Homo sapiens: one gene and its partner. The protein of the gene in region 2 interacts with the protein of the main gene of each other region in a biochemical or structural test. Each region holds a gene or a part of one and is shown on either strand. Other genes may lie near its edges.

Region 1 (3,823 bases), on a different chromosome or scaffold from region 2:
AAAACAGAAGCATAAAGCTCTCTATAATGTTATATAATTTATTTTTGAAGTTATTAATTGGTAAACTTACAGTAAAAGGTTGAGAAAAATACATGTTCAACTATAATACGACTTCAAATTCAAAATTTCCTGAAAGACAATGTCAACAACTTTTTACTCAGAAAAGGATACAGATTTGCCACGTCATATGGCCCTCTTATTTCTAAAGGCTGAAATAAAATGAACAAAGAGTAGATATGAGAAAATTATTTATAACATTTCAATGACTTATAGCAAATTAATAGAAAATTTAAGTATCCAAAAATAAAAAAATTACATAAATTTAAGTCCTTATAATTTTGATGGGTTTCATAGCTTTTGAAAATATAAGAGAAGCTTGAAAGGCATTTTGTAACAGTATAAAAGAAAAACTGATTATATAAACAAAAGTTGAAGCCTAAAGAAAGTGGGGATAAATTTTACTATTTAGCAATTACAATGAGCAAATGCAGTTAAAATAGAAAAAAATGCAACAAATATTCATTTACTATTTTAATTTATCCCCTAGAAACTGAAAAGTTTTATAACCTGAAAGATGAAAACAAAGTACTTCATGCTAGACTTACCCTTTCTGCAGCACTAGATATAATTACATTCTACAAAATAGAAAGTGACTAATATTAATCTTAGATAAATGTAAAAAAAGGAGTTTCATAATATAAATAGCCAGTAATCATATTTTAACATTTAAGGCTCAAATACCAACTTCTTTTAAAGATAAGGTAAATAATTAAGGTGAAAAAAATGAAAAGACTTCATGTCAAACTAAAGGCAATCTGTAATAAAAAACAAAATATGTTTTCCTAACAGATCTTAGTAAAGGTGAATTAAGTTTAAAAAACAAGATGAAAAGGTCACATATCTTAATTCAACTCAGTGAGGACCATTGTTATTCTAGACTTTTCTTTCACAGTATGTAAATTGCAAATTTTTATCAAAAGATATGGCTTCCAACACATCTTTTTCTCCCTTACATTATTCTTCCCTTGGTATTTTTCTTTCCCTTAAAATTTGCAGAGCTCACTGAAATGGCAGAATTTGTTCCTATGCTATGAGAACATTCTGCTTTAAGGAAAAGGAGTCAGTTTGACAATTCCAGTGTACTACTAATAATAAACTGCCAGATGCGAAAAACATCCTAAAATTATAGAACCATACCTTTCCTTTGCAGATTTGCATCAAATTGAGGGCACTGGAAATTGTATACCTTCTCATTGTGGAGTCTTTGATAGCAGGGCTATAGACAAGTTCAAAAGCCAGGCCTCGGTCAATCGCCTTCACAGGAAATAAAGAGAACTGTCAGAGATAAGCATGCACTGGCCTACTTCATTTTCACTGATTCTCTCTTCACATCCCTCCTCACTCCCTACTACTGACCCCTTACATGTCAAGGTACAGCTTTATGAAAGACAGATCAACACTCAAATGGCACCACCCACAAGGAGAAGAAAATAAATCCGTGGCTCTACTTGATTAAGAGAGTTTAACTTGGCTGTGGGGAAGCTGACTTTACATAAACAGGAATTATGAAGAGGCTAAGAAGAACAAAGTCCCAATGGCGTGAGAGAGGGGCTACTACTCCATGAACTATCAAAAGGAAAACAGAAATGTACTCCCTACATTTACAGTAAACTGTATACAAACATAGTAAACCAAGTAATCTGACCTATGAATGCACAAAGAGACAAAGAAATGAAGAGCTGAAAAAAGCCCAAAGAACCAAGGGCAGGAAGGTCTTTCAGGTAAGTAATTTATTCTCTATATGTTGAAGAGAGAATAACAGCCATAGTTAATTGAGTGCTGACTATATGCTAAGAGAGTCTTATATATAATATTTAATCCTTACTACAATACCTTTATAAAGCATTACTGCAAAGCCTGCAAATTGCCCAGATATCTGTCCTCTCCTTTTTCTTTAGTAATAAAGCCCCTGATTTTTCACTGGGCTTATAGCCGCACAGCAAAAAAGATGGAAGTGCCCTTGAAGATTTTGCCCAGCTCACCATACAAGCTTGGCTTTTTTCATGAGAAACAGAAACTTCTTTATTTAATGTACTCTTACTACAGAGGGATCCACAGGTAAGTAGATGAGTGGAAATGATATTGAAATTAACCACCATACTGTTCAGCTTTCCTAATGAGCACCTAAATGTCTGCATCCATTCACAAAAGATGTTTTAAGCCCACTACGTGCAAAAGCTGAGATGGTTTCTCCCTTCTAAAAGCTTACATTTTAGTGGGGGAGATGATCAATAACCACACAAAAATACAAAACTTCAACTGTGTTAAGTGCTATCAAGGAGAAGTTTAGGGTTGAGGAAGAAATTAAGCAGTTAAATAGTAGAGGAAGGTGCACTTTCAGAGGGAGGTCAGAGCATGCAAAAGTCTTCAAGGTTGCAGCATGGCAGCACGTAGGGAAGGTCAAATGCTGGAGAAAAATAATGAGGAAGACAGGCTAAAGAGGATGGGAAGGGCCAACTGTGCAGGCCTTTAGAGCTGGTGATGAGGATTATTCCTAATGGAGAAAACATCTGAAGGATTTTCAGCATAGAGATGATAATCAGACTCTCAATTGCAAAAGTCACTTGAGTGGCAGTACTCTTTCAAAAGAATAAAGAAAGAATGGTAGGCATGTTCTAGGCAGTATGGTCCAAGTCTCTGCTTGGCAAATGAGTTTCGATTGCCCAGAGTATAAGTTGGGACTGGCCCAGCTGTGACTACTGGGGTTTACTCCTGAGCATTTACGGGGAATGGAGAAACTTGTCTTTTTCTAGAACTGGCAGTCCATCTTGATTTAATTCAGTTGTACTTGAAGGCCCCTTCTGCTTTTCCCTCCCGAACACAGATTTCCTTAATTCTTCCTCCGGCTTCAAGGCTCCCAGATTTTATTTTAGATTTTCCTATATGTCTGATTCTAGTTTGGTTAGAATTTAAATGCTATTTTCCACACTGCAACCTTTCCCTCTCTCATTTTTTGACTTTTCCCCATCTCTAATTCTTTCACCTGTGTTGATTATTTCTGGGAATGACATTTGTTAAGATAGTATTTCTGTCCTAGTTGAACGTGTATCTCATTGGCTCTGCCAAGCTTGCACACTTCTTGAGAGCTAGACTGCCTTTTACATAAAAGGTGTATAATATATTTATATTTTGAGTGAATAAATAGCAGCTTATGGAGAAGATGTCCTGTGATAACGTTGTTCATTATAGATGATCCATCATCAAAGGAACCTCGGTGCACCTGGCTAACCAAAAACCACAGATAAGTAAAAACATCCCTTTTAGCCATATTATCAGCCATCTCCTTGGCTATATATTTTACCAAAACTACTAATTAGCTGAAGAGGCTGACCTGTATTTCTTTTCCTTATCCTTCTAGTTGTGGAACGATAATACAAGGCAACAGGATGATGAAGAGGGGAAATAAATGAAAGAGGTGAATGATATATAGAGTTGGATGCTTAGATCTCGAAATATTCCTAATTGACTGAATCTAAATTTCTAGACCCTTGTGGGTACCAAATCAAAATAAAAACAACTTTTGCGGGGGGAGGGGAGAAAAAAAGGATATTATCAGCATAATTATTTTTTAAGGAAAAAGTTCTGATTTTCATCTTGGTACATTAATCAAGTTCACTTTAAAACTGCTATAGGAATTCTTGAAAAAGAAAAATTAAAAATAATGTGCTATTGAAGGTTGTGAATATTTCTTTCATAGCATCTTATTTTAAATTTTTAGATGGATAAAATACAGACTCATTACCTGGGATCTTGCTGTAAGACC
Region 2 (3,823 bases):
CTCCTCCACATAAGCAGTATTTTATTTAATGGTGCTGGCACTTTAGTTGCCTACTTACAGCTCCCCCTGCCTAGAATGTTCTGCCTACACCTCTTCATATGGCTGATGTCTCTCATCCTTTGAGCCTTCATTTAAATTGTTCCTTGACTGATCTTCAAGATGAGACAAAGTCAGCTTGCTATGTTCTTTCTTGTACAGGACACCATACTTTCTCTTTCATAATTCCCTTTATTCTTGTCACTAATTGTCCAACATGTTTTCCTACTACAAGAACCAAGACATTAGTCCATGTGGCAGAGGCCATGTCTGTTTGTTTGCAGCTATATAAACCCCAGGAACGAGGTTTTCTACCTGACACACAGGTACACACAGGGATATTTTTTTTTAAAATTTTGTATTTAAAAAAATTATAGACTCACAAGAGATCACAAAGAAATGTACAGGGATTGGCCGGGCACAGTGGCTCACGCCTGTAATCCCGGCACTTTGGGAGGCCAAGGAGGGCGGATCACCTGAGGTTGGGAGTTTGAGACCAGCCTGATCAACACGGAGAAACCCCATTTTTACTAAAAATACAAAATTAGCCGGGTGTGGTGGCACATGCCTGTAATCCCAGCTACTTGCGAGGCTGAGGCAGGAGAATCGCTTGAACCTGGGAGGCGGAGGGTGCGGTGAGCCAAGATCGTGCCATTGCACTCCAGCCTGGGCAAGAAGAGCGAAACTCTGTTTCAAAAATAAATAAATAAATAAAAAAGAAATGTACAGGGAGGTTCATGCACTCTTCATCCAGCCTCCCACAATGTCAATGTCTTGCGTAACTACAGTACAGTAGCAAAACTACAAAACTGGTATTGGTACAAACCAGAGGTTATTCAGATTTTACCAATTGTATGTCTACTCCTATTTATACCTGTGTGTGGCTCTATGTAATTTTCCCACATAGGTAGCTTCATATAACTACCACCACAATCAATGATAAAGAACTGTACCATCATAAGACTCCCTTATTCTACCCTTTACAGCCACACCCACCCCTCCTCCCCTACTCCTCACCCCAGCAACCACTAACCTTTCTCCAGATTATATATAGTATTTCAAGAGTCTTCTATAAATGGAAACACCCAGTATGTCATGTTTTGGGATTGGCTTTTTTTCGCTCAGCATAATTCTCTGGAGATTCATTCATATTGTGTCTAAATAGGTCATTCCTTTTCACTGTCGAGTATATTCCATAGTAGGAATGTACCACAGTTTATTCACCCATTGAAGGATATATGGGGTGTTTTCAGTTTCATTGTTATTAAAAATAAAGCTGCTATGAATATTCATGTACAGGCTTTTGTGTGAACTTAAGTTTTCAGTCCTCTGGAACAGATGCCCAGGAGTGCTAATGCTGGGTTCTATGGCAGATGCACGTTTAGTTTGTTAAAGATACTGCTGGCCAGGCATGGTGGCTCACACCTGTAATCCCAGCACTTTGGGAGGCCAAGGCAGGCGGATCACAAGGTCAAGAGATTGAGACCATCCTGGTCAACATGGTGAAACCCCGTCTCCACTAAAAATACAAAAAAATTAGCTGGGTGTGGTGGTGTGTGCCTGTAGTCCTAGCTACTTGGGAGGCTGAGACAGGAGAATCGCCTGAACCTGGGAGGCGGAGGTTGCAGTGAGCCAAGATTGTGCCACTGCACTCCAGCCCGGTGACAGAACGAGACTCCATCTCAACAAAAAAAAAAAAAAAAAAAAAAAAATACTGCCAAACTATGTTCCAGAGTGGCTGCACCATTTTACATACTCACTGTAGTGTATGAGTGATCTAGTTTCTTTGCATTCTTGCTAGCACTTAGTGTTGTCATTTTTTATTTCAGTCATTCTGCTAGGTACACAGTGGTATCTCATTGTGTCATTAATGTGCATTTCCCTAATGGCTAATGTTAAACATCTTTCCATGTGCTTCTTTGCCAACCACACATTCTCTTTAGCAAAATGTCTGTTAATGTTTTTGCCCATTTTCTAATTGAATTGTTTGGTTGAGTTCTGATACTTCTTTTTTATTATTATTACTATTATTTTTTTGAGACAGAGTCTCTCTCTGTCACCCTGGCTGGAGTGCAGTGGTGTGATCTCAGCTCACTGCAACCTCCGCCTCCCAGGTTCAAGTGGTTCTCCTGCCTTAACCTCCCGAGTAGCTGGGGTTACAGGCATGTGCCACCACGCCCGGCTAGTTTTTATAGCTTTAGCAGAGACAGGGTTTTGCCATGTTGGCCAGGATGGTCTCAAACTCCTGACCTCAGGCAATCAACCCACCTCGGCCTCCCAAAGTGCTGGGATTACAGGCATGAGCCACCACGCCCCATGTGTTATTATTTTTGAGACATGGTCTTGTTCTGTTGACCAGGCTGCAGTGCAGTAGTGCAATCATAGTTTACCACAGCCAGCCTCAAACTCCTGGCCTCAAGCAATCTTCCTGCCCTGGCTTCCCAAAGTGTTGGGATTACGGGCATGAGCCACTGCACCAGGCCAAATGTCATTTATATATTCTAGACACTATAGTCCTTTGTTGGATACGTGGTTTACAAATATTTTCCCCCAGTGTGTAATTCATCTTTTCATCCTTTCCCACCCCTACCCCCAGCCATGGAGGTGTGATCACCACTCATTGCAACCTTGAGCTCTTGGGCTCAAGCAATCCTCCCACCTCAGCCTCCTGACTAGTTGGGACTATCAGTGCACACCACCACACCCAGCTCAATTTTTCAAATTGTTTTGTAGAGATGGGGTTTCACCAGATACCCAGGCTGGCCTGGAACTCCTGGGCTCAAGTGATCCACCCGCTTGGCCTCTCAAAAGTGGTGGGATTACAGCTGTGAGCCACTGCACCTGGCCCTTTCATCCTCTTAAGAGTCTTTTGCAGAGTAAAAGTTTTAAATTTTGATGAGGTACTTAGCATATTTTGATTTGACAGACTATATGAATCACAAAATAATTTCCTGAGCATCCTGTCTTCTTTCAACTTCTGAAACTCTACTTCTCTACTTCTGTTCTCAAAGTTGCTTAAAATGCTGGTCTATGACAAAATAATGAGTTGAATCAGAATATAAACCAATAGTATCATTAATCACCATGTTTAGTTCAGTTCATCTTTTTTTCATGAGGAGCCTTTTTTTTGAGACCGAGTCTCGCTCTGTCGCCCAGGCTGGAGTGCAGTGGCGTGATCTCGGCTCACTGCAAGCTCCACCTCCCGGGTTCATGCCATTCTCCTGCCTCAGCCTCCCGAGTAGCTGGGACTACAGGTGCCCGCCGCTGCGCCCGGCTTTTTGTGTTTTTAGTAGAGACAGGGTTTCACCGTGTTAGCCAGGATGGTCTTGATCGGCTGACCTTGGGATCTGCCTGCCTTGGCCTCCCAAAGTGCTAGGATTACAGGCGTGAGCTACCGTGCCCAGCCCTTTTTTTTTTTTTTTTTTTTGAGACAGAGTCTTGCTCTGTTGCCCAGGCTGGAATGCAGTGGCGTGATCTCTGCTCACTGCAACCTCTGCCTCCCAGGTTCAAGCAATTCTCCTGCCTCAGTCTTCCAAGTAGCTGGGACTACAAGCGTGCGCCACCATGCCCAGCTAATTTTTGTATTTTCAGTAGAGAAAGCGTTTCACCACGTTGGCCAGGCTAGTCTCAAACTCCTGACTGTAAGTGATCTGCTCATCTCAGCCTCCCGAAGAGCTGGGATTATAGGAGTGAGCCACTGCGCCTGGCCCATAAGGAGACTTTCTCATTAAAAGTGGTTCTGCTGCAAATTCCTTATCTCTTCAAGATGGGAAAAGAGTTTGCAGGT

What was found.
Region 1: the proteins of RPP14 (region 2) and RPP30 form a complex in vitro, tested with the Homo sapiens proteins (one study listed by BioGRID).

Annotation. Positions count from the first base shown.
Region 1 is NC_000010.11:90,892,266-90,896,088, reverse strand, and holds part of RPP30 (ribonuclease P protein subunit p30), read right to left. Parts: intron 1,315-3,823; coding exon 1,198-1,314; intron 636-1,197; coding exon 606-635; intron 210-605; coding exon 172-209; intron 1-171. UniProt on the Homo sapiens protein: Component of ribonuclease P, a ribonucleoprotein complex that generates mature tRNA molecules by cleaving their 5'-ends. Also a component of the MRP ribonuclease complex, which cleaves pre-rRNA sequences.
Region 2 is NC_000003.12:58,312,601-58,316,423, reverse strand, and holds part of RPP14 (ribonuclease P protein subunit p14), read right to left. Parts: intron 703-3,823; exon of another isoform or gene 605-702; intron 1-604. UniProt on the Homo sapiens protein: Component of ribonuclease P, a ribonucleoprotein complex that generates mature tRNA molecules by cleaving their 5'-ends.